Regions from separate parts of the Homo sapiens genome. Here region 1 is linked to region 2. The links come from fine-mapping of genetic effects on gene expression. A gene starts in region 2. The other region holds a variant in brackets. All regions are shown on one strand. Distances are between the middles of the regions. Region 1 overlaps ZSWIM5 (zinc finger SWIM-type containing 5). Region 2 holds the start of ZSWIM5 (zinc finger SWIM-type containing 5).

Region 1 (16,160 bases), 26 kb after region 2:
TGTTTTGTTTTGTTTTTTGAGACGAAATCCAGCTCTGTCACCCAGGCTGGAATGCAGCGACAAGATCATGGCTTACTGCAGCCCCTACCTTCTAGGCTCAGGTAATTCCCTCACCTCAGCCTCCCGAGTGGCTGGGACTGCAGGTGCACGCCGCCATGCCTGGCTAACTTTTTGTGTTTTTTGTAGAGATAAGGTTTTGCCATGTTGCCCCACTGGTCCTGAACTCCTGGGCTCAAGTGATCCACCTACCTCGGCCTCCCAAAGTGCTGGGATTGCAGGTGTGAGTCACCAGCCTGGCCTATTATGTAGGTTTTAAAGATCAAATATAGTATTGTTGAATATGCTTTATTAATGGTTCTTTGATATATTATTAAAGTACTAATTGCAAAAGTTTTCAGATTATTACTTTGTGTGTTGTCCCTTGCAAATATTATTATTATTATTATTATTATTTTCTTTGAGACAGAGTCTCTGTCTGTTGACCAGGCTAGAGTGCAGTGGCATGATCTCAGCTCAATGCAGCCTCTGCCTCCCGGGTTGAAGTGATTCTCCTGCCTCAGCCTCCCAAGTAGCTGGGATTGTAGGTGTGCACTACCATCCCTGGCTAATTTTTGTATTATTAGTAGAGACAGAGTTTTTCCATGTTGGTCAGGCTGGTCTTGAACTCCTGACCTCAGGTGATCTGCCCACCTCAACCTCTCAAAATTTCTGGGATTACAGGCGTGAGCCACCGTGCCCGGTCCCTTGCAAATATTACTAATATAGCATCAAGGTAATTAGCAACAAAAGAAGTCACTCAACCAGAATGTTATCCAGTATGTTAGTGTAGTTTTATTTAGAACTTTATTTAGTAGTGAATGGTTTTTCAGTACCTATTCCCTTTTATCTATTCCCTTGGAGATTAGAATTGAAAAGGAGTTGGATTTTAACTTTCCTCAGTTATATATCTGTGTGATAAATATGCTGTCTAGCACACCATCAAAACAGGTTAGCCTTGCTAGGGTTTTTGTTTGTTTTGTTTTTATTAGGGAGGCTATCTTCTCTCTGTTTTGACGTCTAGGCTGCCTAATGAGGCCTTGAAAACCAGTCTCCAGCAGTGTCCCTGAAGACTTTGTAGTCTGGAATGAGGGGACCTTACAGCAGGTTTTCCCCACCTAATATCTTTAGTGAGATATACTTCATGTACTGTATAACTCATCCATTTAAAGTGTACAATTCAGTGGCTTTTACTATATTCACAGGTAGGGGCTGCCTTCACCACAGTCAATTTTAGAAGATTTTCCTCACCTCAGAAGAACCTTGCATCCTTTAGCTGTCACTCCCCAATCCAATCCCATATAGTCCTAAGCAATTACCAGTCTACTTTCTGTCTCTATGGATTTGCTTATTCTAGCCATTTTATATAAATTGAGTAAGAATATGTAGTCTTTTGTGACTGGCTTCTTTCACTTAGCATAATGTTTTAAAGGTCCATAAATGTGTAACATATATCTGTACTTTATTCCTTTTTAATGGTGAATAATATTACATTGTATGGATATACCACATTTTGTTTATCCATTAATTGGTTGTTGCATGTTTGGGTTGTTTTCCTTTTGGTTATTGTGAATAATGCTGCTGTGAATATTTGCATACAAGCTTTTGTGTGGATACGTGTTTTCATTTCTCTTGGGTATACATCTAAGAGTAGAATTGTTGGATCATGCAGTAACTATGTATAACATTTTGAGGAACTGCCAAACTATTTTCCAAAGTGCATCATTTTATAATTCTACTATCAATGTATGAGTGTTCTGATTTCTCCACATCTTTGCCAATACTTGTTATTATCTATCTTATTTATTATTTCCATCCTGGTGGAGGCCCGGAAGTAGTATCTCATTGTGGTTGGTTTGGATTTGCATTTCTCTGGTGACTAATGATGTTGAGATCTTTTCATGTGTGTATTGGTCATTTGTATAACTTCTTTGGAAAAAAATGTTTATTCAGATCCTTTGCCCATTTTTAAATTGGATTTTTTTATTCTTAAGTTGTGACAGTTCCTTATTCATTCTAGATACTAGTCCGTTATCAGATATGTGATTTGCAAATATATTTTCCCATTTTGTGAGGTGTCTTAACTCTCTTGATAGTGTCCTTTGAAGCACAAAAGTGTTAAATTTTGATGAAGTACAATTTATTTTTTTTCTCGGTTGCTTTTTTCTTTCTTTCTTTCTTTTGATAGTATAGCTAAGAAACCATTGCCTAACCCAAGATCAAGAAGATTTACTACCATGTTTTCTTCTAAGTGTTTTCTAGTTTTAGCTCTTATATTTTGTTTTATGTTTCATTTTGAGTTGACTTTTGTGATGTCAGAAGGGGCTTCAACTTTTTTTTAATATGGATATCCATTTTTTCCAGCATTATTTGGTGAAATGACTAGTCTTTCTCCATTGAATGATCTTGACATGCTGTTGAAAGCCAGTTAACCATAAATGAGTTTATTTCAGGACTCTCAATTCTATTCCATTGATCTTTATGTCTATCCTTATGTTAGTATCACATTGTCTTTATTACTCTTGCTCTAGTAAGTTTTGAAATTGCAAAGTGTGAGTCCTCCAACTTTATTCTTCTTTTTCAAGATTGTTTTGGCTATTCTCATTCCCTTGAGTTTCCCTATGAATTTTAGTATCAGTTTATTTTTTGCAAAAAAAAATCTAGTTGGGATTTTGAAAGCGATTGTATCGAATCCGTAGATCAGTTTGGAAGTTTTGGCATCTCTATTAGTGTTCTATAAGGAAACTACTACTGTAACAAATTACCATGAACTTAGTGGTTTAAAACAACACATATTTAATATTTTACAGGTCTGGGGGTTTTCTGGGCTAAAATCAAGTTATTGAGGGCAGGTATGATGGCTCACATCTGTAATCCCAACACTTTGGGAGGACTAGGGCAGGTAGATCACTTGAAGCCAGGAGTTCGAGACCAGCCTGGCCAACATGGCAAAACCCGGTCTTGACTAAAAATACAAAAATTTAGCCAGGCATGGTGGTGCACGCCTGTAATCCCAGCTACTTGGTGGCAGAAGCACCCGGGAGGCAGAGGTTGCAGTGAGCCGAGATCATGCCACTGCACTCTAGCCTCGGTGACAGAGCGAGACACTGTCTCAAAAAATAAATAAATAAATAAATAAATAAAACCAAGTTGTTGGCAGAGCTGTATTCCATCTAGAGGCTTTTCTTGGAAAGAATCTCTTTCCATGTCTTTTTCCAATTTCTAGAAGCTATCTGCATTCTGTGGCTCACAGCCTCTTCCTTTTTTATACCGTATCATTTTTTTTTTTCCTGAGGTTCAAGGGATTTTATTATTATTTTTTCTTTTTTTATTATTATTATACTTTAAGTTTTAGGGTACATGTGCACAATGTGCAGGTTAGTTACATATGTATACATGTGCCATGCTGGTGTGCTGCACCCATTAACTCGTCATTTAGCATTAGGTATATCTCCTAATGCTCTCCCTCCCCCCTCCCCCCACTGCACAACAGTCCCCAGAGTGTGATGTTCCCCTTCCTGTGTCCATGTGTTCTCATTGTTCAATTCCCATCTATGAGTGAGAACATGCGGTGTTTGGTTTTTTGTCCTTGTGATAGTTTACTGAGAATGATGATTTCCAATTTCATCCATGTCCCTACAAAGGACATGAACTCATCATTTTTTATGGCTGCATAGTATTCCATGGTGTATATGTGCCACATTTTCTTAATCCAGTCTATCATTGTTGGACATTTGGGTTGGTTCCAAGTGTTTGCTATTGTGAATAATGCCGCAATAAACATACGTGTGCATGTGTCTTTATAGCAGCATGATTTACAATCCTTTGGGTATATACCCAGTAATGGGATGGCTGGGTCAAATGGTATTGATAGTTCTAGATCCCTGAGGAATTGCCGCACTGTCTTCCACAATGGTTGAACTAGTTTACAGTCCCACCAACAGTGTAAAAGTGTTCCTATTTCTCCACATCCTCTCCAGCACCCGTTGTTTCCTGACTTCTAATGATCACCATTCTAACTGGTGTGAGATGGTATCTCATTGTGGTTTTGATTTGCATTTCTCTGATGGCCAGTGATGATGAGCATTTTTTCATGTGTTTTTTGGCTGCATAAATGTCTTCTTTTGAGAAGTGTCTGTTCATATCCTTTGCCCACTTTTTGATGGGGTTGTTTGTTTTTTTTCTTGTAAATTTGTTTGAGTTCTTTGTAGATTCTGGATATTAGCCCTTTGTCAGATGAGTAGGTTGCAAAAATTTTCTCCCATTCTGTAGGTTGCCTGTTCACTCTGATCGTAGTTTCTTTTGCTGTGCAGAAGCTCTTTCGTTTAATTAGATCCCATTTGTCAATTTTGGCTTTTGTTGCCATTGCTTTTGGTGTTTTAGACATGAAGTCCTTGCCCATGCCTATGTCCTGAATGGTAATGCCTAGGTTTTCTTCTAGGGTTTTTATGGTTTTAGGTCTAACATTTAAGTCTTTAATCCATCTTGAATTAATTTTTGTATAAGGTGTAAGGAAGGGATCCAGTTTCAGCTTTCTACATATGGCTAGCCAGTTTTCCCAGCATCGTTTATTAAATAGGGAATCCTTTCCCCATTGCTTGTTTTTCTCAGGTTTGTCAAAGATCAGATAGTTGTAGATATGCGGCGTTATTTCTGAGGCCTCTGTTCTGTTCCATTGATCTATATCTCTGTTTTGGTACCAGTACCATTCTGTTTTGGTTACTGTAGCCTTGTAGTATAGTTTGAAGTCAGGTAGCATGATGCCTCCAGCTTTGTTCTTTTGGCTTAGGATTGACTTGGCAATGAGGGCTCTTTTTTGGTTCCATATGAACTTTAAAGTAGTTTTTTCCAATTCTGTGAAGAAAGTCATTGGTAGCTTGATGGGGATGGCATTGAATCTATAAATTACCTTGGGCAGTATGGCCATTTTCATGATATTGATTCTTCCTACCCATGAGCATGGAATGTTCTTCCATTTGTTTGTATCCTCTTTTATTTCATTGAGCAGTGGTTGGTAGTTCTCCTTGAAGAAGTCCTTCACATCCCTTGTAAGTTGGATACCTAAGTATTTTATTCTCTTTGAAGCAATTGTGAATGGGAGTTCACTCATGATTTGGCTCTCTGTTTGTCTGTTATTGGTGTGTAAGAATGCTTGTGATTTTTGTACATTGATTTTGTATCCTGAGACTTTGCTGGAGTTGCTTATCAGCTTAAGGAGATTTTGGGCTGAGACAATGGGGTTTCCTAGATATACAATCATGACATCTGCAAACAGGGACAATTTGACTTCCTCTTTTCCTAATTGAATACCCTTTATTTCCTTCTCCTGCCTAATTGCCCTGGCCAGAACTTCCAGCACTGTGTTGAATAGGAGTGGTGAGAGAGGGCATCCCTGTCTTGTGCCAGTTTTCAAAGGGAATGCTTCCAGTTTTTGCCCATTCAGTATGATATTGGCTGTGGGTTTGTCATAGATAGCTCTTATTATTTTGAGATACATCCCATCAATACCTAATTTATTGAGAGTTTTTAGCATGAAGGGTTGTTGAATTTTGTCAAAGGCCTTTTCTGCATCTGTTGAGATAATCATGTGGTTTTTATCTTTGGTTCTGTTTATATGCTGGATTACATTTATTGATTTGTGTATATTGAACCAGCCTTGCATCCCAGGGATGAAGCCCACTTGATCATGGTGGATAAGCTTTTTGATGTGCTGCTGGATTCGGTTTGCCAGTATTTTATTGAGGATTTTTGCATCAATGTTCATCAAGGATATTGGTCTAAAATTTCTTTTTTGGTTGTGTCTCTGCCCGGCTTTGGTATCAGGATGATGCTGGCCTCATAAAATGAGTTAGGGAGGATTCCCTCTTTTTCTATTGATTGGAATAGTTTCAGAAGGAATGGTACCAGTTTATCCTTGTACCTCTGGTAGAATTCAGCTGTGAATCCATCTGGTCCTGGACTCTTTTTGGTTGGTAAGCTATTGATTATTGCCACAATTTCAGCTCCTGTTATTGGTCTATTCAGAGATTCAACTTCTTCCTGGTTTAGTCTTGGGAGAGTATATGTTTCCAGGAATTTATCCATTTCTTCTAGATTTTCTAGTTTATTTGCATAGAGGTGTTTGTAGTATTCTCTGATGGTAGGTTGTATTTCTGTGGGATCGGTGATGATATCCCCTTTATCATTTTTTATTGTGCCTATTTGATTCTTCTCTCTTTTTTTCTTTATTAGTCTTGCTAGCGGTGTATCAATTTTGTTGATCCTTTCAAAAAACCAGCTCCTGGATTCATTAATTTTTTGAAGGGTTTTTTTGGTCTCTATTTCCTTCAGGTCTGCTCTGATTTTAGTTATTTCTTGCCTTCTGCTAGTTTTTGAATGTGTTTGCTCTTGCTTTTCTAGTTCTTTTAATTGTGATGTTAGGGTGTCAATTTTGGATCTTTCCTGCTTTCTCTTGTGGGCATTTAGTGCTATAAATTTCCCTCTACACACTGCTTTGAATGTGTCCCAGAGATTCTGGTATGTTGTGTCTTTGTTCTCGTTGGTTTCAAAGAACATCTTTATTTCTGCCTTCATTTCGTTATGTACCCAGTAGTCATTCAGGAGCAGGTTGTTCAGTTTCCATGTAGTTGAGCGGACTTGAGTGAGTTTCTTAATCCTGAGTTCTAGTTTGATTGCACTGTGGTCTGAGAGACAGTTTGTTATAATTTCTGTTCTTTTACATTTGCTGAGGAGAGCTTTACTTCCAACTATGTGGTCAATTTTGGAATAGGTGTGGTGTGGTGCTGAAAAAAATGTATATTCTGTTGATTTGGGGTGGAGAGTTCTGTAGATGTCTATTAGGTCTGCTTGGTGCAGAGCTGAGTTCAATTCCTGGGTATCCTTGTTAACTTTCTGTCTTGTTGATCTGTCTAATGTTGACAGTGGGGTGTTAAAGTCTCCCTTATTATTGTGTGGGAGTCTAAGTCTCTTTGTAGGTCACTCAGGACTTGCTTTATGAATCTGGGTGCTCCTGTATTGGGTGCATATATATTTAGGATAGTTAGCTCTTCTTGTTGAATTGATCCCTTTACCATTATGTAATGGACTTCTTTGTCTCTTTTGATCTTTGTTGGTTTAAAGTCTGTTTTATCCGAGACTAGGATTGCAACCCCTGCCTTTTTTTGTTTTCCATTTGCTTGGCAGATCTTCCTCCATCCTTTTATTTTGAGCCTATGTGTGTCTCTGCACGTGAGATGGGTTTCCTGAATACAGCACACTGATGGGTCTTGACTCTTTATCCAATTTGCCAGTCTGTGTCTTTTTGTTTGTTTGTTTGTTTGTTTGTTTGTTTTTTTGAGACGGAGTCTCGTTCTGTCGCCCAGGCGGGAGTGCTGTGGCGCGATCTCCGCTCACTGCAAGCTCCGCCTTCTGGGTTCACGCCATTCTCCTGCCTCAGCCTCCCGAGTAGCTGGGACTACAGGCGCCAGCCACTGCGCCCGGCTAATTTTTTGTATTTTTAGTAGAGACGGGGTTTCACCGTGGTCTCGATCTCCTGACCTCGTGATCCGCCCGCCTCGGCCTCCCAAAGTGCTGGGATTACAGGCGTGAGCCACCGCGCCCGGCCCAGTCTGTGTCTTTTAATTGGAGCATTTAGTCCATTTACATTTAAAGTTAATATTGTTATGTGTGAATTTGATCCTGTCATTATGATGTTAGCTGGTTATTTTGCTCATTAGTTGATGCAGCTTCTTCCTAG[T/C]CTCGATGGTCTTTACATTTTGGCATGTTTTTGCAGCGGCTGGTACCAGTTGTGCCTTTCCATGTTTAGTGCTTCCTTCAGGAGCTCTTGTAGGGCAGGCCTGGTGGTGACAAAATCTCTCAGCATTTGCTTGTCTGTAAAGTATTTTATTTGTCCTTCACTTATGAAGCTTAGTTTGGCTGGATGTGAAATTCTGGGTTGAAAATTCTTTTCTTTAAGAATGTTGAATATTGGCCCCCACTCTCTTCTGGCTTGTAGAGTTTCTGCAGAGAAATCAGCTGTTAGTCTGATGGGCTTCCCTTTGTGGGTAACCTGACCTTTCTCTCTGGCTGCCCTCAACATTTTTTCCTTCATTTCAACTTTGGTGAATCTGACAATTATGTGTCTTGGAGTTGCTCTTCTCGAGGAGTATCTTTGTGGCGTTCTCTGTATTTCCAGAATCTGAATGTTGGCCTGCCTTGCTAGATTGGGGAAGTTCTGGATAATATCCTGCACAGTGTTTTCCAACTTGGTTCCATTCTCCCTGTCCCTTTCAGGTATACCAATCAGATGCAGATTTGGTCTTTTCACATAGTCCCATATTTCTTGGAGGCTTTGTTTGTTTCTTTTTATTCTTTTTTCTCTAAACTTCCCTTCTCGCTTCATTTCATTCATTTCATCTTCCATCACTGATACCCTTTCTTCCAGTTGATCGCATCGGCTCCTGAGGCTTCTGCATTCTTCACGTAGTTCTTGAGCCTTGGCTTTCAGCTCCATCAGCTCCTTTAAGCACTTCTCTGTATTGGTTATTCTAGTTATTCATTCGTCTAAATTTTTTTCAAGGTTTTCAACTTCTTTGCCTTTGGTTTGAATTTCCTCCTTTAGCTCGGAGTAGTTTGATCATCTGAAGCCTTCTTTTCTCAACTCGTCAAAGTCATTCTCCGTCCAGCTTTGTTCTGTTGCTGGTGAGGAGCTGTGTTCCTTTGGAGGAGGAGAGGCGCTCTGCTTTTTAGAGTTTCCAGTTTTTCTGCTCTGTTTTTCCCCCATCTTTGTGGTTTTATGTACTTTTGGTCTTTGATGATGGTGATGTACAGATGGGTTTTTGGTGTGGATGTCCTTTCTGTTTGTTAGTTTTCCTTCTAACAGACAGGACCCTCAGCTGCAGGTCTGTTGGAGTTTGCTAGAGGTCCACTCCAGACCCTGTTTGCCTGGGTATCAGCAGCGGTGTCTGCAGAACCGCAGATTTTCGTGATCCGTGAATGCTGCTGTCTGATCGTTCCTCTGGAAGCTTTGTCTCAGGGGAGTACCCAGCCGTGTGAGGTGTCAGTCTGCCCCTACTGGGGGGTGCCTCCCAGTTAGGCTGCTCGGGGGTCAGGGATCAGGGACCCACTTGAGGAGGCAGTCTGCCCGTTCTCAGATCTCCAGCTGCGTGCTGGGAGAACCACTGCTCTCCTTAAAGCTGTCAGACAGGGACATTTAAGTCTGCAGAGGTTACTGCTGTCTTTTTGTTTGTCTGTGCCCTGCCCCCAGAGGTGGAGCCTACAGAGGCAGGCAGGCCTCCTTGAGCTGTGGTGGGCTCCACCCAGTTGGAGCTTCCCGGCTGCTTTGTTTACCTAAGCAAGCCTGGGCAATGGCAGGCGCCCCTCCCCCAGCCTCGCTGCTGCCTTGCAGTTTGATCTCAGACTGCTGTGCTAGCAATCAGTGAGACTCCGTGGGTAGGACCCTCCGAGCCAGGTGCAGGATATAATCTCCTGGTGTGCCGTTTCCTAAGCCCGTCGGAAAAGCGCAGTATTCGGGTGGGAGTGGCCCGATTTTCCAGGTGCCGTCTGTCACCCCTGTCCTTGACCAGGAAAGGGAACTCCCTGATCCCTTGGGCTTCCCGAGTGAGTCAGTGCCTCGCCCTGCTTCGGCTGGCGCACAGTGCGCTGCACCCACTGTCCTGTGCCCACTATCTGGCACTCCCTAGTGAGATGAACCCGGTACCTCAGATGGAAATGCAGAAATCACCCGTCTTCTGTGTCGCTCACACTGGGAGCTGTAGACCAGAGCTGTTCCTATTCGGCCATCTTGGCTCCTCCCTATACCATATCATTTTAACCTCTGCTTCCATTGTCACATTTCCTGTCTCTGACTTTAAGCCTCTTGCCTCCCTCTTATAAGGACTATGTGATTACATTGAACCCACTCAGATAATCCAGGATAATTGCTACATCTGAAGAATCTTAATCACATCTGTAAAGTCCCTTTTGTCAGGTTCTGGATGTTAGGGTGTGGACATATTTGGTGAGGGGCATTATTCTGTTTACCATGCCATCATAACAACATCTCATCTTCTGATCCATGAACATGGGATGTCTCCCCATTTATTGGATCTTAATTTCTTTCAACAATGTTTTGTTGAAGTTTTATCTTTTTTCAACTTTTATTTTAGAATTGGGGGGGCACATGTGCAGGTTTGCTACAAAGGAATATTTCACGGTGCTGAAGTTTGGAGTACGTACGAATGAATCTGTTACCCAGGTAGTGAGCATAGTACCCAATAGGTATTTTTTTTCAACCCTAACCCTCTCCCTTCCCTATGTTGTATTCATCAGTGTCTGTTGTTCCCATTTTTACAACCACATATGCCCAGTGTTTAGCACCTTCTTGTAAGTGAGAACATTTAGTCTTTGAATTTCTGTTTCTGCATTAATTAACATAGCATAATGGTTTCCAGGTGCATCCATGTTTTTGTGAAGTACATGGCTGTGTAGTATTCCATGGTGTATATGTACCATGGGATGTACCTCATTTTCTTTATTCAACCCACTGTTGGTGGGCACCTGAGCTGATTCTATGTTTTTGCTAATTTGAATAGTGCTGTAATGAATATACAGGTACACGTATGTGTCTTTTTGGTAGAATGACTTATTTTCCTTGGTTGGATTTACTCCTAAGATATTTTTTTCTTTTTCATGCTATCATAAATGGAATTGTTTCCTTTATTTCATTTTTTAATTGTTTGTTGCTAGTGTATATAGATAGAAATATAACTGATTTTTGTATGTTGATCTTGTACCCCTAACCTTGTGGAATTCATTCATTTATTTATTTATTTTAATTTTAAATAGTATCTTATTGAATGTTTTATTCACAGAAAAATAAGCTTTAATCTACAATGAATGCCAGATTATACAGCAGAGAGCAGTTTTCTTAGTTTTCCACACTGATAGAAAGGTTCTTACTAAGTGAAAAAAGCCATAAAATTATATTCACCAATAGAGTACTCTGTCTCAAAACATTCCACATGATTGTTCACAATACTAATACAATTAAATCAGTCATTTACGTTAAAGTATAACAGTGATAAAAAATGCAAAATCTAATATAAATTACATTAAAACTTTTGTTATATCAAATCAGAAATGCAAATTTCTTACTAAATACAGAAAAATGGTCAAATATATAGTAATTTAAGATATTACATTAATGATACAGAATAGGAAAGTGGTAAACTCCAAAAATCTATAGGCATATCTGCAAACTTCAGACTTCAAAGTAGAATCTGACCACCCAAACATTAATGTAGCATTTGTCTAATTTTTGTTTTGTTTTGTTTCTGAGACGGAGTCTCACTCTATCACCCAGGGTGGAGTGTGGTGGCGCCATCCTGGCCCACTGCATCCTCCACCTCCCAGGTTCAAGCGACTCTCCAGCCTCAGTCGGTCGAGTAGGTGGTACCACAGGCATGCGCCACCACACCCAGCTATCCCTTCATTTCTGCAAAGACAGGGTTTCAGCCTGTTGGCCAGGCTGGTCTCCAACTGCTGACCTCAGGTGATCCGCTTGCCTCAGCCTCCGAAAGTGCTGGGATTACAGGTGTGAGCCACTGTGCCCGGCGCCATTTGTCTAATTTGAAGATACAGTTGTCCCTTGCTATCCGTGGGGTTTTGGTTTCACAACCCCCTAGGACCTGAGGATGCTTAAGTCCCTTAGATAAAATCACATAAGGCCGGGTGTAGTGGTTCACGCCTGTAATCCCAGCACTTTGTGAGGCCAAGGCAGGCAGATCACCTGAGATCAGGAGTTTGAGACCAGCCTGGCCAACACCCTTGTGGAATGAATTTATTACTCAAATAGAGATAAACTTTTATCTTCCTTTCCAATCTGGAATCCTTGGTCCTTATCAAGTCACAAAACTCAGTGTTGTTTGTGCCATAGAATGCATTGTATTAAGGGATTTTTCTGCTTGCATTAGACTGGGAAATGCTTTTTAATGTGCTATTGTGTTATTAAAGAATATGATCCCAGGGAAGCAAGAGTGAGAGAAAATGAAATGAGACAGGGAAGGAGGGTAAGGCAACATAAGGATGTGTCATAGAGCTGGTTACTGCTTGGTATCAAGTAGCAACTGATTGCTCAATCTCCCCGAATTGTCTTATAAAGCAGCAGAGAGAATCCCCTTTTATGCCCATCTTTCATTTCATGAGATTCAGACCTGGGAAATATTTTGCTATTAAAGGTATATTTTGCATACCCCTCTGTAACTTTCACCATTATTGATTTCACAGTTTGGGTTGTAGGAATTGTAGAAATTGCTCTATTGCTGTTACCACTCTGTATAACCTGCAAACTTAAGTACCTTAAATTCCCTGTGTATATGGTGTAGGTTTTTCAGTTCCAATGTGGAAAAGGGGGTTGGCCATAGTTCATAGCCTTGTTAGAGTCTATAACAACTCTTAATGATTGGAAGTGTAAAATAAATAAGAACAAGCATTCAGTACATTTAAGAAATTTTTTTCTTTTTCAGTGTCATATTCTTTTCTTCTTTCCTATTATTTTCTTTAGTGTTTATTCCTTATTTTCTGCATACGTTTTAGAAACATAATCACTGTATAGCAAAATAGCTAATTATGAGGTGTCATACAATGATACTGCTCTTCTCTTCCCTCCTCTCTCTAGTTCCTGAATCCTTAATCATTCCCTTTTCTTCTGACTTCCCTTCCTGAAAACTTTAGTCCAAACCTGGGAGAAGCAAGAGAAAAGGAAGTGAGATGGGAAGAAGGGATAGTAGCAGTGGCCTGAAAGGGTATATTGGAGCCCAACTGGAGCAGTGGCCTAGCATGGGGTGCTAGAGCCAAAGTGGGGTGAGGAGGGTATCCACATGAAGGGGGATATAATTTGAGATGTCAGAGTCTGAAAGGGTTGAGGATGACTTTTGTATAGGGGTGAAGGGGAGTGTAGAGCCATAGGGTGTTAGTGTTCAGATGGGGTGAAGTGGGCATAGCAGGGGGTGGCAGCAGTAGGTGCAGGTTTTTTGAGCTTGAGCACAGTGAGAAGAATGTCCTTATTGGCAGGGAGGAGCTGTGGTGGCAATGAAAGATTGGTTATTTATAGATATTGATCAACTAAGTAAATCAATTAAGGATAACAGGAGCCAAATTTCTCACTATCAGAAAAAGTAGCTAAAATGTAGACCAGGCCGGGCGCGGTGGCTCATGCCTGTAATCCCAACACTTTGGGAGGCCAAGGCGGGTGGATCACCTGAGGTCATGAGTTCAAGACCAGCCTGGCCAACATGACGAAACCCCGTCTCTACTAAAAAATAGAAAAATTAGCTCGGTGTGGTGGCATGCACCTGTAGTCTCAGCTACTCAGGAGACTGAGGCAGGAGAATCGCTTGAACCCAGGAGGTGGGGGTGGCAGTGAGCCAAGATTGTGCCATAGCACTCCAGCCTGGGCAACAAGCAAGACTCCGTCTGAAAAATAAAATAAGATAAGAAAAGATAAAGACCAGGGAGAAAAGGTGAATGAACTCTGGGTTTTGGATTGTAATTGGAGATACCCACGTGAACTCATGGTTTTTAGTATATATTGGAATATATATATAATATATATTATATATATATATGGCATTCAGTTAACTGAGAGGGCCTTAGAGCAGTAATATCCCAATAGCAATAAGCACACCTAATGCCCATATCTTGGTTTCCAAGTACTTTTCTCCGATAAAAGGAACAAAGCCTCCTTGGAGAAATGGCTGAATTTAGGGGTGAGGCAGAGAAAGTATCAAATGAGCCTTGAACATGTTCTTGTGCCAGAAAGCAGGGAGGTTCTTAAAGAATTATAGCAACACATCAAAAAGGATACAAAAGCCAGCTTTGAAGAGATTCCCATTAGCCAAATATGGGATGAATTGAGTGTCAAAATAATGATAATAATGGATATAACCAACCCATTGAATGAAATAGAAACCCATGAGTTCATTGTGTCAATGGTTTTTTTTTTTTAAAGGCCAGGTGCCATGGTTCATGCCTATAATCCCAGCACTTCGGGAGGCTGAGGAGGGAAGATCACATGAGCCCAGGAGTTTGAGACCAGCCTGGGCAACATGGCAAAACACCGTCTCTACAAAAATTTTAAAAAATTAGCCGGGCATGGTGGTGCATGCCTGTGGTCTCAGCTACTTTAGGAGGCTGAGGTGGGAGGATCGCTTGGGCCCAGAAGGTTAAGGCTGCAGTGAGCTGGGATTGCTCCACTGCACTGCAGCTTGGGCGACAGAATGAAACCCTGTCTCCAAAATAAAATATTTTTAGAAAGAGTAAGTTGAAAATTTGATGAGTATATTGGCATAATGTCAATATGGTTCCCATGAGATACTTTAATTATAAGGGGAAAAAGGTAACTTTAAAGTGAGGAATCCAGGCAAACACTACTGTGATCAAATGAGCAAAGTTAACCTCACCAGTGATGGGAGAAATCAAAATTGTGTGCCATTTGATAGGAAACAATAAGAACATGGCTCCACTTCTATGATATTACTGCCAAAGATAGATAACCTGAATCTAATCATGATGAAATAACAGGCACTACTGAGGGACATTCTTCAAAATAGCTAGCCTGAAGTCTTCGTAAGTATCAGAAGTCAGAAAGTTAAGACTACAGGTGGTTCCAGATTGAAGGAGAATAAGGAGACATAAAAACTAAATGCATTGTATGACTTTGGACTGGATCCTTATGGGGACATTTTTGGGGCAATTGGCAACAGTTGAATGGGGCCTGTGCATTATATGATAATGTTATGGTATTGATTTCTGATTTTCATGATTTTTATAGTTCTGTAGGAGAATATCTTTGAAGGAAATACACAAAAAAAGTATTCTGGGGTGATAAGGCAGTACGTTGACAACTTACTCTCCAATAACTCATTTAAAAATTATTTGAACTGTACTTGCAACTTTTCTGTAAGTTTGAGATTGTTTCAAAATAAAAAGGGATAAATATGATAATCTTTTTCTTTTTTTTGAGACAGAATCTTGCTCTGTGGCCCAGGCTGTAGTGCAGTGGCGCGATCTCAGCTCACTGCAAACTCCACCTTGCAGGTTCAAGCAATTCTCCTGTCCCAGCTCCCCGAGTAGGAGAGTATTTTGTATTGGGTGTGTCATGCCCAGCTAATTTTTTTTTTTTTTTTTTTAGTAGAGTTGGGGTTTCACCATGTTGGCCAGGCAGGTCTCAAACTCCTGGCCTAAAGTGATCCGCCCACCTCGGCTTCCCAAAGTCCTGGGATTACAGGTGTGAGCCACCTCACTGAGCTGATAATGAACTTGAATGAACTTTGATTAATAGTGAGTACTCCTCCAATTACCTATTTATTTTGAATTGTTTAAGAGAATATGTTTTTCTTAGCTTACATTAAAAATCTCCAATTATTTTTATTAAAAGATCACTTTTGAATGTTTTAGTTTTATTTCATATTTTGTTTTGTTTTTTTGAGACAAGGTCTCGCTTTCTCACCCAGGCTGGAATGCAGTGGCCTGATCTTGGCTCACTGCAACCTCTGTCTCCGGGTTCAAGCAATTCTCCTGCCTCAGCCTCCTGAGTAGCTGGGAATACAGGTGTATGACACCATACTTGGCTAATTTTTATATTTTTTGTAGAAATGGGGTTTTACCTTGTTGGCCAGGCTGGTCTCAAATTCCTGACCTCAAGTGATCCACCCACCTTGGCCTCCCAAAGTGCTGGCATTACAGTCGTGAGCCACTGCACCCAGCCTTCATGTTCATTTTAAAGGTTAAATTATAATCAGTACAAACATACGTAACTCATCTAATTTCATTTTAAATGATATTTGGTTCCTACTCAGATTATAAGCTAAAGTTTTTTAAGCAATTATGTCTTTATTGGTTATATAAATTTACAGTCTTTTAAAGCTGTGTAAATATTGCCACTTAATATAGTTTCACTTTTTATTTGCATAACAATAATAACAATATTAAAAGCTAACACAAAGTGCTGGGCGCTTTGCCAAATATTTAACATGTTATAATTTATGTAATCCATATAATATTCTTTTGAGGTATGTACTATTATTATCCCAATTTTACATATGAGGAAATGAGGCCCTGATAAGAAACTAGTCCAAATTTATATA
Region 2 (16,160 bases):
TAGGAAGGGGCTCTGAAGCAGGGCCAAGCAGTAGGGGAAGCAGCCTTGATGCTTGGGCTGTATAAGCCAGCAGGCCCAGTTGAAGGTATCTGTGGTGGGAAAAGATGCAATATGGAGTTTATGGGAAGCCCCAGTGGAGGAATCACAGTGCAGGTCCTGGGAATTTGGAACAAGGTCATGTTAGTCACAGGAGAGGATTATATACCCTAAGAGAAATAGCTCCTGGTGCCTTACTGGGCCCTGGTAGAGACAGGACGCTTGACTCTGGGGCACTAAGTTACTTTGAGTATGAAACTTTCCATTATGAGCTGGGTTCTGTTAGACCTGCCAAGTCATAAATTCAGCCATACCAGCATCTGTCATTAGATAGAGACATTACATCCAGGACTATAACAGCCTTAGGAGGAATAGAGAGCATGAGCAGGAAGTCTAGGCCTCCTATACCACCTGCTATATTTGCATTATTGCTCTTCCCTAAGCTTGTGCTTATATCTATATGAGAGAAGGTAAGTCTGATGTGAGCGCTGAAAAAGGAAGAAAAAGCCTGAGCTTGGTTTATGGGTAGGCCTGTTTGGAATGTGGATACAAGCCAAAAATGGACAGTAATGGCATTATAGTCATATTCAGCAGTGGCCCTGAAAAATGGCGGAAAGGAAAACTTTTCCAAATGAGTAGAGCTGGGAGCAGTGCATCTGGCTAGCTGCTTTGTGAGCAGGTGAAAGTGGCTAGAGAGGTGAATATATATATATAGATTCCTGGGCAGTGACCAGAAGGCAATGACCAGAGGGCTTGGGCCCTCTGGTCAGGGACCTGGAAGGGAAAGGATTTTTGTGTCACATATTAATGGCCACCTAAAAGCATCCAACATGAAAGAGGCATTGAACAGTCAAGCAGACAAAAATGACTTGGCCAGGTATTGCTAACTAGCCTGGTGCTAACTAGCTGGCTGCCCCAGGACTGGTATGATGGGGACATGACAGAGAACTCATGGTGGCATAAGTGGAAATTACATATAGGCTCAACAGCAGGCATTCCCATCTATCAAGATTTATCTAGCTATTGCTGCCTTGAATGTCCAACCTGTTGGCAACCAAAATGAACAACTAACCTCCTGATATAGCATTGTTCCTGCTACAGGCCAACTGTATCACACAGCACACCAGTCCCTTTCATTCTAAAAGGGTCAAGAGTTTGTTTTCAAAAGGAGAGATACCTGCATATGAGTTTGCCTTTCCTGCCTACAGACCTCAAATAGCCCCAGTACCCAAGGACTTATGAAATGCCTGATCCACAGGCATAGAATTCAACAAGGAATAGCATCCAACCAGGGAACCCACTTCACAGCAACAGGTGTTTGAGAGTCATCTGGTACTATAGTGTGAATGTCCCTTCTAAAACTCATGTTGAAATTTAATTGCCATTATAACAGCATTGACAGTCAGGACCTTTAAGAGGTGATTAGGTCATGAGGGTCCTGCCGTCATTATCATGAGAGTAGGTTAGTTATCACAGGAGTGGGTTCCTGATAAAAGGATGATGTTTGGCTCCCATCCTCTGTCTCACAGGCTCACTTTCTTCCATTGTGGGAAAACACAGCACAAAGGCCCTCACTAGATGTTGGTGCCATGCTCTTGGACTTACCAGCCTCCAAATCATGTGTTGAATAAACTTACATTCTTTGTAAATTACCCAGTCTGTGGTATTCTGTTATTGCAGCACAAAATGGATTAAGATATCTGGCATCACCATTGAATACCCTAGTCATATCATATAACACAATATCCAGCCAGCCTCATAAAATGCTGGAAAGACCTTCTACAGGCATAGAAGCAACCAGCCTTATAAAATGCTTAAATGCCCTTCTATAGACACATTTGATATGCCTAGTTCAGAGACCACATTTTGAAGGGATGGGGTGGCATCCTTCAAGATGATGAGTATGCAATGAATTAGGCACCTCTATATAGTGTTGTGGCTCCAACAGAAATGAGAAACCAAGGAGTAGAGACAAGAGTGGCCTCATTATTTATCATCATTTACAATGAACTTCTGGGAGATTCTGTGCTTCCTGTCCCCACAACTCTAGGTTCTACAGGACTAAAGGTTCGAATCCATTGCACCCTAACTTACGGCTGCTGCCAGGGCATCAGAGACTCCTTGTGCCCAGGGGCTAGCAGGTGAGAAAAGGAGTTAGCATACTGGCAGGAGTCATTGACCCTTAAGCAGGAGGCAGTATTCCTCTTACACAGTGTGAGCAGGAAGGAATACGTGTAGAACTGAAGAGATCTTCCTGATTGCCTCCCTGCCCCAATGTAACTGTGAACAGACACATGGAATAATCCTGGCCTATAAAGGTATGATTGCTGAGAGCTCAGAACTCTAAGGACTGAGGGTTTGGATCACATCTCTAAGCAAGTTCCAAGACCCGCTGAGGTGATAACGGAGGGTGAGGGGAATTCAGAATGGATAGTGGAAGAAGAAAAAGATGAGTTCCAGTTGTGGCCCCAAGACCAGTTGTAACAATAGGGAATAGAGCTCATCCCATTAACTATCCTCTTCTGAGTTTCCCCTCAGGAAGAGAACTGTGGAAGATCTGCTCCCTGATTTGCATGAAGAAGTAAATTGGTGAGGTAAAAGAAGTGAACTGTGGCAGCCATGAAAATGCTCTTCTCAGATTTCTGGCTGTGGGAGGCATACTTTACTGACCACTTTAGCTGCTGTGCTCCAAAATCTATCCCTGCATTTACCTCTGGATAAATGCTTTCCACAGGCTGCTGCCACCCAGTGATTTAGTACAATGAGAAGGAGTACTAAGACAGGTCCATTCCTAGAAGGCGCAGGACTCCTCTGATGGGCACATTTGGTCTTGCCTAACTTTCTTAGAACTATACTGCACTCTAAGACCCCCCCATTCAACCTTCCTTCCTTTCTTTTCTCTTTCATCTGCATTGAGATCTGATGTCTCTTACAGTCTTCCCTAGCTTCTAGCTTCCTCTCCATGTTCCCTATTAAGCATAACGTCTAATAAATCTCTTGCACATCTAATCCCATCTTGACTAATTCACACCCTAAATGTCCATTAGAGGGAGAATAGACAACATGTGGTACATTTATATAGTGGAATACTACTAAGTATAAAAACAGAACAAACTGTCATGAGAATAACATAGGTGACTCTCAATTATTATTATGCTTAATAATAAACCAGACATAAAATAATTTATGCCATATTATTCCATTTAAATGAATAATTGGTATCTCTGGGAGGTGGGTATCAAGCTGAAAGGGACATAAGGGACTTTTCTGGAATGACAGAAACATTCTACATTTTTTCTATGTAAAGACCTCATGGGTGTATACATTTGTAAAAAGTCTTCCTAGAAAGCAGACTCAGGGGGAAAACATCATCAAGCTGTACACCTGAGAATTGTGCCTTTTAATTAAAAGTACTCAAAAAAAAAAAGATTGGTGCTTTTTTTTTTTTTTTTTTTTTTGAGACGGAGTCTGTCTGTCGCCCAGGCTGGAGTGCAGTGGCACGATCTCGACTCACTATAACCTCCGCCTCCTGGGTTCAAGCGATTCTCCTGAGTAGCTGGGATTACAGGCGCATGCCACCATGCCCAGCTAACTTTTGTATTTTTAGTAGAGACGGGGTTTCACCATGCTGGCCAGGCTGGTCTCGAACTACTGACCTCATGATCTGTCCACCTCGGCCTCCCAAAGTGCTGGGATTACAGGTGTGAGCCACCGCCCCCGGCGATTTGTGCATTTTAATGCATGAAAATTCCGCCTCAATAAAGTATTGAAAAAATAATAAAGGAGATTTATTGGTTCATGTAACTGGATGTTGATAGAGGGCTTCAGGTTTTGATTCAGCTGTTTAGCAATGCCATCAGAAATCTCATTTTTTTTTCATCTTTCCCATAAGTCTTTTGGTATGTCAGCTTCAACCCAAGCCTGGCTTACCTTTGTATTCACAGCATGCTACCAACAACCTCCTTTTCTGGGTCGAGGCACTAAGAGAATTGCTTTTGTAAGCTCTCTTAAAAGAGTAAGAACTTTCTTCTTTCCTGGAAGTTGCTAGCAAACCACATATCTTATTGGCCCAATAGGTTATGCTCATTCCTGAACCAATCCCTACGACCAGGGAAATGCCATACACTGATTGACTTATCTCTGCCTATCCCTGAATGAATCACTTTAGAATGAGATATGGAATTATGCCAGTTGATCAGACAAGTTAGCACTTACCCTTGGAGCTAAAGTCCTCTAATTTTATGGCTGCTCCATAACTGAAGGAAGAGAACCACGAAGTCTACCACAAGAAAAATAGCAGTTGACTGGACACAGTGGCTTACACCTGTAATCCCAATACTTTGGGAGGCTGAGGTGGGTGGATCACCCAAGGTCTGGAGTTCAAGACCAGCCTGGCCAACATGGTGAAACCCTGTCTCTACTAAAAATACAAAAATTAGCCAGGCATGGTGGCGGGCACCTGTAATCCCAGCTACTCAGGAGGCTGAGGCAGGAGAATTGCTTGAACTCAAGGGGTGGGGGTTGCAGTGAGCTGAGATTGCATCACTGCACTCCAGCCTGGGCAACAAGAGTGAAACTCTGTATCAAAAAAAAAAAAAAAAAAAAAACCAGAGTTGGGTAATAGGTCCAATCAATTCAAATCATGGTCTTCTAGCCAGGCATGGTAGCTCATATCTGTAATCCCAGCACTTTGGGAGGCCAAGATGGGAGGACTGCTTGAGCCCAGGAGTTTGAGACCAGCCTGGGCAATATAGGAAGACCTTGTCTCTACAAGTGTGGTGGCGAATGCCTGTGGTTCCAGCTACTTGGGAGGCTGAGGTGGTAGGATCGCTTGAGCCTAGGAAGCAGAGGTTTTAGTGAGCCAAGATTGTACCACTGCACTCCAGCCTGAATAACAGAGCCAGACACTGTCTGAAAAAAAAGAAAAAAAAAATCATGATCTTCCTTTCTAATTCCTAAATATTTCTCATTCCCACTTCATTCAGTGTTTATGATATACCCAAACAAAGTGTTATCAGGAAGCACAGGTGTCTATCTTCTACATTTTGAAATAGAAGCCAAAATAAATTTTATTAAATAAATGACTGGGTTGCATACAGTTTGCTTGTCAAATGATACCTAAATCCTCATCTCTGAGTCTCACTCTATCCTTCACCTTCATCTCATCATTTCATTCCATGCAAAGGGGTTGAGGATGTTTCACAAATGCAAATTTAAAGATTTATTTCTAAGGTTGGATCAAAATTTTCCTGACATCAAAAGAGTTGTATTAAGATGTGAGGTATTCTTCCTGGTTATTGATTTTTGGTATTTGTGTTTTCACCCTGGGGATTGCAATGCTGTAAAATAAGTATCTTTAGACTCCCACAGTCTCCTTGAAATATGTCAATTCTCTCATCAGAGAAGAGGGATCAAACAGAGAGAGGTAACACAGGCCCAGAGCCATTGCTAGCCCATATGGTCACTTGGTGAGAATGAGAAAGAGGCACCCAGATGCAACCTGGTTGGTGCAGGGATGGGCAAATGGAGTGCAGGCCAGATTTCAGCCCCTTTTTGCCCGATGTCTAGATATCTTTTCGTCCAATGCCTTCTACAAGCCTTTATTACCTCCTTCCCACACTGTTGGTTTATCTCCAAACTCATCTTTTGCCTCCAGACTTTATCTTTCTCCTGATTCATCCTACATATTTCTGTCTGGTTAATATTCCTAAAACACTGCCTTTTATCATATAACTGTCCTGCTCAAAATACCTTTATTAGCTTCCCTCCACCAACCTAAGAAAATGCAGATTCCTCAAGTTAGCATTTTACAATGCTTTTAAAAGCTTTTCACAATGTCTCCTGTCTCTCTTGCAGTCTTTTCCCACTATTTCTCACCACAAACTTATGGTCCAATTAATCTAGCATTCTTGTTATTCACAACCACATATTGCATATTCCCAAATGTCTTATTTGCTGTGTTATTACCATCTGTATTTATATATTTATGTGCTTATTTTTTATTTTTTATTTATGTTTTTGAGACACAGTCTCACTCTGTCTCCCAGGCTGGCAGTGGTATAATCTCGGCTCAGTGCAACTCCGCCTCCTAGGTTCAAGCAATTCTCCTGCCTCAGCCTCCCGAGTAGCTGGGATTACAGATGCCCACCATCATGCCCAGCTAATTTTTGTATTTTTGGTAGAGGTGGAGTTTCACCATGTTGACCAGGCTTGTCTCGAACTCCTGGCCTCAAGTGATCCACCCACCTCAGCCTCCCAAAGTGTTGGAATTACAGGTGTGAGCCACCACGCCCGCCTAACATGGAGCTTATAGTCTATTTTGGGAAACAGACATTAAGCAAATAAACACATAAATATAGGCTAGGCGCCATGGCTCACACTTGTAATCCCAGCACTTTGGGAGGCTGAAGCGGGCAGATCACTTGAAGCCGGAGTTTGAGACCAGCCTGGTCAATGTGGTAAAACCCCATCTCTACTAAAAATACAAAAATTAGCTGGGCATGGTGGCATACACGCCTGTAGACCCAGCTACTTGGGAGGCTGAGGCAAGAGAATCACTTGAACCCAGGAGGCGGAAGTTGCAGTGAGCCAAGATTGTGCCACTGCACTCCAACCTGGGTGTGACAGAGTGAGACTGCATCTCAAAAAAAAAAAAAAAAAAAAAAAAGACAGTAACTGATTAAATCAGAATAACATATTCATTGATTCAAAGTGCAAATATTTTCTGAACATCTTCTATGTGTAGGCATTTTGGCAGGTGGTAGAAATAGGCCCTTACATGGAAATGGTTCCTGCCCTTCCACAGCTCATAGTCTAGTTAGGGGGACAGGCATTAAAGGAATATTCGTTCTCCCAAAAAACTCTGATAAATTATAGGAAAGAAAATAGTGTGTGTTATGGAAGCCTGTAAATGTGGTACCAGATTCAAGGTGGAGTAGGGATTATGCTATTTTGCAGTAATCTATTTATAGTTATTTACAGATATAAATCCATTTACCAATATAAACAGATTTCTTTTTCTTTCTTTTTTTGTTTTTTTAGAGAGGGTCTTGCTCTGTTGCCTGGGCTAGAGTGCAGTGGCATGATCATAGCTTACTGTAACCTTGAACTCCTGGGCTCAATCAATCCTCCTACATCAGCCTTCAGGGTAGCTAGGACTACAGGGTGTAGGCCACTAATCCCTGCTATTTTTTATTTCTTGTGTAGAGATGGGGTCTCCAGTCTGCTCTGTTGCCCAGGCTGGTCTAGAACTCCTGGCCTCAAGGGATCCTCCACTTTGGCCTCCCAAAGCCTTGGGATTACAGGCATGCGCCACTGCATCTGGCCTAAACAGATACTTATTGAGTACCTACTACACTGAATAAGCAAACAATTTGAATTACTTCTAATTCCAGCCAGCCTGGGCAACATAGGGAGACCGCCCCTCTACAAAAATTTAGAATTAGCTGGGTGTGGTGCTGTGCATCTGTTGTCCTAGTTATTCTGGAGGCTGAGATGGAAGGATAGTTTGAGTCCAAGAGTTTGAGGTTGCAGTGATCACCCCACTGCACTCCGGGCTGGACATCAGAGTGAGATCCTGTCTCTAAAAAAACTTTTTTTAAAGTGAATTATTTCTAATTCTTACAACATTTATGTGTAGAAGCATTATTACTAGCTCCCTTTTGCAAATGATTTAATAGAATCATGAATAGCATCACACACAGCAAGTGTGATTCACACCCAATTCTGCCTGTGCTCTTTAATTCTGAGATTACAGCAAAACCAAACTGTGGCTCCAGCCTGTCTCCAATCATTTACTCTCTTCTTACTCTTATTTTATCCTACACTCTAAATCTCTCTTACTTTGAAGGGCAAACTCAACTATAGAAACTCTTTTAATACAGTTCTTGGAACGTTTTAAAGTTGTAGAGATTAGTTTGTCAGCAAATTCTGAAATAATCTGAGCTTTCTTGATCGAGCAAGAAACAGTAACTTACAATTGCGTGTTGTTTATGGAGTTAGTGATGAAGCTGCCATTCTTGAGCACCCACTATGTGCCAGGCAGAGGATAAATTATAGTGAAGGAAATAGACATGATTCTCACTCTCATGGAGTTGACAGTCAGACATTAAACAAATATATAAAAATACAACTATGTAAAGGTGTAGAAGACTGAGCCAAGTGAGGAAAACATGAAAGACCTAATTCAGATTGGAGGTAGGGGATCAGAGAATTCTACCAAAAAACACGCAAAAGTGTTTTGTATTCTAGGATGCAAGGTGCTAAACCCTCCAAAAGACCCCACCAGGATGCAACCCCCGTGGCGATAAGATCTTGATGCCCCATTGTCAAGGGGTGGTGCGACTTTGTCCCACTCTGGGGTGGGGTGACCGCCGGCTTTATCCTACATTGTTGTGGCGTGAGGTGAGTTTTCATCATCCGAACTTTCTGATGTTTTCCCCTAGTGTCTTCTTTCCCAGCGTCTTTCTGCCAGATCTTCCGCTCTGCTGTGACAACCTCCTGTCACATCAGTACCGTTGGAGCTGGATTGTTTTTTTCTCCTTGTACCCCGCGAGCCTATAACTTCACGGAGGCGGCTCCTTGGATGGCTTATGGCCCCGCCATTTCATTCAGTCACACAGTCCATTCCTGTCTGGCCGGCGGCAGGTGGGTTGGAGGTGCGCGGGCGGGCGGGCGGGCGTGCGAGAGCGTCCGGCGCTCCTCTCCCCTCCGCGGTCGCCGGATCCGCGAGAGCGCTCGGCTCGCGTTCTAGGCTGTTTGCGCCTGGAGCGCGCCGCGGGCCCGCGCTCGCTCCCGCCTGTCTTCGCGTCCGCGGCGGCCAGGACACCGCGCGCCGCCTCACGCTACCCTGCAGGCCGCCCGCGTCTGCCCTCGCGGCGCGCTCCCGGGCCCGGCCGCGGTTCCCCACTCGGGCCGGCTGGCTCGCGGGTTCTCTCGCCCCGCCCCCCTCGGCGCCACCGCTGGGCGCTTGCGCGGGGCGCGTGGCCGTGGCCAGGGTCTCCGCCGCAGCCCGAGCAGCCGCCGCCGCCTCAGTCAGTCAGTCAGTCCCCAGCAATGGCGGACGGAGGTGAGCGAGAGGAGCTGCTCTCGCCGTCACCGGTCTCTCCGGCTAAGCGGCAGTGTTCGTGGCCCAGCCCGCAGGCTCATCACCCTCGCGGTTCGCCTGGGGCAGCCGGCGGAGGGGCAGGGGGCGTCGGCAGCAGCTGCCTGGTCCTCGGGGCCCGCCCCCACCTGCAGCCGGATTCCTTACTGGACTGCGCCGCCAAGACGGTGGCGGAAAAGTGGGCATACGAACGGGTGGAGGAGCGCTTCGAGCGGATCCCGGAGCCCGTGCAGCGCCGCATCGTCTACTGGTCCTTCCCGCGGAATGAGCGGGAGATCTGCATGTACTCCAGCTTCCAGTACCGGGGCGGCCCCGGCGCCGGCGCTGCTGGCGGCGCCGCGGGGGCTTCGCCGGCCGAGGAGGGGCCGCAGCCACCCCCCGGGGCCGCCGCTCCGGCCGGCTCCGCCCCCGGGGGCGTCGCGGCTGGGGCATCCCCCGGGCTGGGCGCAGGGGCCGGCGCGGCCGGCTGCGGTGGCGAGGGGCTCCCGTTCCGCCGGGGCATCCGTCTGCTGGACAGCGGCTCCGTGGAGAACGTGCTGCAAGTCGGTATGTGCTCGTCCAGGCGTTCTCGGGTCCTCAGCCTCCTCTTCCGCGGGTGCCTCTTCTCGGCCCGAGCCCTGGGGCCGAGACCCCGGCCTTCTGCCCAACTCCTGTACCCCTGCCGAAGGACGAACAAGTCACAAAAACTTTTTTCAACCTTTCACTCAGGTCCACCACTGCTCTTTCCTCCACTGACCCTCTACCCCAATTTCTTTTTGTTTGAAGAGTGAATAGATCTCTCTTCTTCACTCTTTCTATTCCCCACACCAAGGCAAAGAGAATGGGGAGGTATGACTTTTTGGATGTAATAATTTCAGAAATGTGTTGTCCTAATTTAAGTTTGGAGAGGAGAGGATTGTTAGTAAATCTGGAACAAGCGGTTTTAGAGGGAGCGTTTGAGGGACAGACTGTCAGAGGCAATCTATAGCCCTAGCCGATTGAGTCTCGATGAAATTAACACTGGGAAAAAAGCCCCAACAAAATACTGCATGTTTCAGACAGTTTTAATTGTCTGCGTTAGGATTTTTCCCCTGGACCGGTGATGCTTGGGAATCTAGGCTGCGGACTAACAATAACCGAAGATGGAAATGTGACAGCTTCTCCTCCACACCCCCACCCAAGGAAAAAAAAAAAAAAAGCCATACAATCTGGAGTGGGGGTGGGGTCTCTCTTCCTTGTCAGACTGGGGTAAATCAAAAGCTGGTCACGCTGGGTTTTTCAAAAGCTTCTCATTTAACAAGTCCTATTTGCTTTTATCTTTTTGTTATGGAAAAATATATTATACAAATGATTTCTTCCTTTACTCCTCCGGAGCTTCTAGTCAGTTTGTTAATCTTATTAAATATATAAATACAGTGCTTCTGATTTGTGGAATGGTTAAGGAGAAGGATAAAAAAATGATTAACATTGACTTTGCTATGTGGAAAATTAAAACACGAATTTTTTTCTATTTGGATTATTATGGCATTCTGGAAGTACATATCTTTATGCGTTTTATTGTACACTATATGCTCGTATTAATTGAAGAAAATACTGATTTTTGAAAGGAGTTGAAGGGAGGTTGTTTTTAGAATTAAACAAGCACAGAAAGACACAAACCCCAGACATCTAGCTCTCCAGGTAAAACCTGGAGAAAACATTTGAAAAATGTTTTTCTTTGAATCGTGCTGTTTCATATAAAGTAATCTGCTTCTGGTTATTGAGAATCATTGATTCCTGTGTTTCTAACCAAAACAACAGCATACCACAACTTGTTTTGCAAATGTGAAATGTAAATTTATCCTGTGCCAGAATATAGTGACAGTGGCTTGAGCAAGTTTTGTTTATTTGAAAGAGGTTAGTCCTTTATTTGTGTATATTTTTGAAAGAGTGACTTGAATAAATATGTAATTAAGGTGTACAGCTTTAATACTGAAACACTGAAAACATGAAAATAAATACAATCATTTTCCTATTAGTCTGTAAATTTTAATTTTTCTGAGTTTCGATCATTTATTTAACTTTTAAGATTCTTGTTTCAAATATTTTAAATGGAAAAGGATCAATTTAAGTGGTCATTTTATAGTAAGAGATGGATGAGGAAGAATTTTCAAACTTGAGGGAACAAATAAAAGAGAGGAAGAGTTTTAAAGAGGTGTCTATTTTTAAAGTAACTAAAGTGTCACTTTCCAAATGAAATAGGATATTTTGGGTAATCTAGATCATGTTTAAATCAGATATTTCCCCTTTATAATATGAAAGTTAATGTGGTTCTGGAGTTATAGGCTCTCTTATGGTAGTTTCAGAAGACACATATAAACAAACATGTTTTCTGATTGACTTGAGAAAAGACACATATAAACAAACATGTTTTCTGATTGACTTTGGATTTCAAAGACGAAGACCGGTGAATAAATTTATCACTTTAAGTTTATGCTACTTGAGAACCACGAGCTGTGTAATTTTTATTATTCTGACCTTAATTTAGGTTAATAAGTATAGGAGAGAAGGATAGCCTGTTCTGCATCTTTTTGAGTTCTGTATTTTGGTATGAACCACCTTTAATAGAGACTCATCCCCCATCTCCTAAACTTAAAGTTATAAGTAAATGACTTAATCTAGAGAGTAGGCTTTCTAAAAGTATTGCCAAGAGATGAGTAAGGAAGTGATTCGTATATACCAAGATAGTAATCGTGTTTTTCAGTTTATAACTGCACTTCAAACTCAATTAATTACTAAGTGATGCTAATTAAGAATTCTACATATTTCCTTACTGTTTCTAAACGATAGAACCTCAGATTTGGGAAGTTACTGAAGGCCGATGCTTTAGGAAGAACAGAAAGTTGGGGTATTTCTGTGACAACATCTTTTTAAGAAAAAGAGTCATAAGGGAATTTAATGAAAAAGGGAATTTAAATGAAAAAAGAAAGCACAAACAAAAAAGCCTTCAAGGCAAATAAATTAAAAACAAACAAAAACTTGTGGAAAGAGTAGGTAGATTAAATTCTGTAATTTCTAATTACTTTCCACACAAAATCTGGTAATGGGAAGTCATGAATTCTGGTTAAAAATTGGATACTTCAGATTTTAAATCAAAACTAAAACTTTTCCAGCTATGCTCAAAGGATACATTTCTTTTATGTAAGTACTGCATCAGAAGTAGTATTCCTTTTAAAAGGGGAAAATTGCAAATTAGTCTCTTCAGGGATGTCTGTAAGTTTAAAGCTATGTCAATAGACTTACAGTCTGATCTCAGTATTGTAAAGGTTAGAGTATGAACTCTATTGAAAACATATGAATGTTTTCAGCATCTGCATTTTTAACTTGTTTCAGAAGCCCATGGATATAGTAGTAGTATAAACTTTGGGAAAATACTTATTCAGGAGTCTGCAGATGGCATAAGAATAAGACACCTATAATTTACTAACGGTTTTAACATTTTGACCCTTTTGCTATCCACTGTATTTTAAATTGATTTCTTTGTATTTGGTAAAACTTAAAGAAGCTTTGCTTTTTCTCAGGAAAATCTGAATTGATTGAAGGAAAAAAAATTAACAGTTTTTCTCACTTAAACACAGAAATGTTATATTTACTTGGATATTTAGTTTTAAAAATTGGCTAAAGGCATGCAGGGGCCTTCTGCGCCTGGTACATCTTAGTTATGTACGTATTTATCCAGAAATTTTAAGTAGATTTTGACAGGTGACTTCAACAAAACCCCATAGTTTTAGTCTACACATTTTTTAATAAGTACATGATTTGTTCTTGAAGTCTTCAAGACTAGAACCAGAATGCTAAGTATTACCTTATGTGGAAGAGGTACAATTACAAAGTCAATAATGGAAATATAAAAAGTGGCCCATTTCAGGAAGTTATCTATAACTTAAACATCAAGTAGTAAGTTTAAAATTGTGTACACTTGTATATCATCAATAAACAGGTCTGTGAAATTTTTCTGTAGTATAACTTTTATGAAATTTATCAGTAACAAGTATTACAGTTTGTTGATTTTTATATGTAATTTGTTTTAATCTATATTGTTTGGGGGAACAAAAGATATCTACATTGAAAAAACTGTGGCATATGTGAGTTAGAATGAATAAAATTATAATAAAATTTCATGTGGAGAAAAATAACTTTATTGATATTTAAGGTATTCCATCACAGAAGGCAGCTGCATTCCTTTAAGCGGGTGTGCTTTTTAGCATAGAAATTTTTCAAGTTTTAAATCACATTATCTTTTTTTTTTCTGATCAATGAGTTCTCTCCCTCCACCCTAACACATCACATATGCACACATTTTAATGTTCAATAAGTGCTTGTTGAATGACTGAACGTTAAGAATGGATTTCTCAGTGTTGTAAAACAGAGAGAGACCTGAATTTTGAGTATGAGTGGTATTGGAATATATGGGGAAAACTCCAGATTTGTGCATATAATAAACTGATAGCATTAAGTAGTATGAGTGTTACAACTTAGGTGTATCTTCTGTGTTTAACCATCTATTTTGTGTGACGAATGGTGATTTATCAATTTCTTCAAATGAAAGCTTTAAATGAATTTTTCTAAAGGTGACTTTCTCAAGGATAGAGCTTTGGATTTTAAAGATGATGGATAAACTAAAGAGAGTGAATTTTATTTTAGAGGTTATCTTTATTTTAGGAATTTTAAAAATATATTATAGAAAAGGCTGGAAATTTATGCCTATGGGAGACAATTTTATTTCTCTTGTTTCAATAATAGCAATTAAAAAACAAGACATTAACTGTCAGTAATCTATTATGGTGAGGGTTATATGAATATATACATGTGTTAAAATGTATGGAACTATACACCAAAAAAGTCAAGTTTACTATATGATACCGTAGAAAATAAAATTTTTAAAAATCAATGCATTGATATAATGTACAAGAGAAACATATATATTACTGTAAAAATGCTGTATTAGTTTCCTATGGCTGCTGTAACAAAGTATCACAAACTGGATTGGCTTAAAACCACACAAATGTATTGTCTCAGAGTTCTGGAGGCTAGAAATCCAAAATCAAGGTGTTGGCAGTGCTATGCTCCTTCTGCAACCTACAGGGGAATCCTTTGTTGCCTCTTGCTAGCTTCTGGTGGTTTGTTGGCTGTCTTTGGCATTCTTTGACTTGGAGCTGCAAAATTCCAATCTCTGATTTTGTGGTCACGTGGCATTCTCCCTGTGTGTGTCTGTTTTCACATGGCCTTCTTATAAGGACACCGGTCATATTGGATTAGGGGCTCACCCTACTCCAGTATGACCTCATCTCAATCACATACACAACAACCCTATTCCCAAAGTCACATCATGAGGGACTGAGGTTATGTTCTGAGGTATTGGGGGTTAGGACTTCAGCATATTTTTTGGGGGGTGACATAATTCAGCCCATAACAGCTTCTCATACTTGTTTCTTGTTGCATATCTGAGTTTCATGTGAATTTTAAACTTTATTACATTAAGTATGGCTTAAGTTAGGAAATCACCACATTAATTTTATTAGGTAAGCATTATTTAGACTTGCTTGATTCAATTTGCATGATTATTTAATCTTAATACATGTGGAATATTTTTGACAAATAAGTGGTTATTTAAAGGTTAAAATTGTCATTCTTGATAAAAAATGATGACTGTGTGATATAGCACTCATGGTATACATATATGAATGAATAGATTACTGTGGGTTTTTTTTCATGCACACCATTTATAACTCAGCTTTAGAAATGGATAACCTTGAAAGCATATGAACAGTGTTTTAATGTCTGTTTCCAAACCCTAAATTACTATGGTTTACAATTAGTGCTTGATATTAGAAATAGATAATAATTTATTCCAGATAATTTTTATGTGAATTTTTTTACCTTGTGGTTTATTTATAGGCTTATTTCTTTCTAACATAGGCAGCATGCTTCTTGGACACTTTTAGCCTATCATGGAGCTAGTAGACTAAGAAAATCATACTTATTTAAATATTAGCTGTAGTATTATGTGATTATACGCTAAATTACTCTGCGATAGTTTTTGTAATCATATATAGTCAACTGATTAATTTTTGGTTTTCAGTGTAATTGTTCTCCCCCTTAGGATGTATAATGTGGTTTGTCCTAAGTTGGTGCTCAGTAAATGTTTATTGAATGAATGAGTACATTGTCATATCATTTTTTATATTTGTGTAGTATGACATCTCTCTTAATTGATTTATATGTAACTGAAGCCTAAAAGATGTATTGGCATTTGTGGCTCAATTTCTGGATGCTTCTGATTTTTAAAGCATTACATAGATAAAAATTATCCTTGAAGCTTATTATTAACTTGTTCTTGGTTCAGTCATTGAATTAACGTTTAGTCACTTATTACGTGTAAGGCTCAGTAAATAATTGTTTACCTGTTTTTGGTGGAAGTCTTTCTGTAGTACTTTGCATTTTCCTATCTTAGAGTACAAAGTTAGGTTGGGCATCAAAGCCTAAACTAAGGACTACATTACGTTGCCTTCCTTAGGTAGGGAGGAAGTTATAAACAGTGAATATTTGACTCTGAGAGTTTCTGAAGCCTGTTTTTGAAAAGTTCCTTGGATACATGTTTTTTGGTCATTTGCCTGTTCCTTATAATGGAGTGATGAATGTGGTATTTAGGGGAGTATAACATAGTTACCTTATTTAAAAGTAGACTATTGAGGCCAGGCGTGGTGGCTCACTCCCAGCACTTTGGTAGGCCGAGGCGGGTGGATCATGAGGTCAGGAGATCAAGACCATCCTGGCCAACATGGTGAAACCACGTCTCTACTAAAAATACAAAAATATTAGCCAGGTGTGGTGGCGTATGCCTGTAGTCCCAGCTACTCAGGAGGTTGAGGCAGGAGAATTGCTTGAAGCCGGGAGGCAGAGGTTGCAGTGAGCCAAGATCGTGCCACTGCACTCCAGCCTGGGCGACAGAGTGAGACTCCGTCTCAAAAAGAAAAAAAAAAAAAAAAGACTATTGAAGCAA

Evidence for each region.
Region 1: its variant is fine-mapped to the expression of ZSWIM5 in whole blood (TOPMed, PIP above 0.99).

Annotation. Positions count from the first base shown.
Region 1 is chr1:45,173,614-45,189,773 of GRCh38, reverse strand. The region is part of intron 1 of ZSWIM5 (zinc finger SWIM-type containing 5); the gene reads left to right. Among named protein-coding and RNA genes, the nearest start is that of ZSWIM5, 25 kb to the left of the region's middle. The variant T/C (reference allele first, on the strand shown) is at 7,772.
Region 2 is chr1:45,199,281-45,215,440 of GRCh38, reverse strand. It overlaps ZSWIM5 (zinc finger SWIM-type containing 5), which reads left to right and starts at 8,836. Exons shown (of 14, transcript NM_020883.2): 1 at 8,836-9,685. The coding sequence starts at 9,091. RefSeq lists silencers at 8,610-9,029, 9,230-9,389, 11,358-11,558 and enhancers at 8,458-9,357, 9,358-10,258.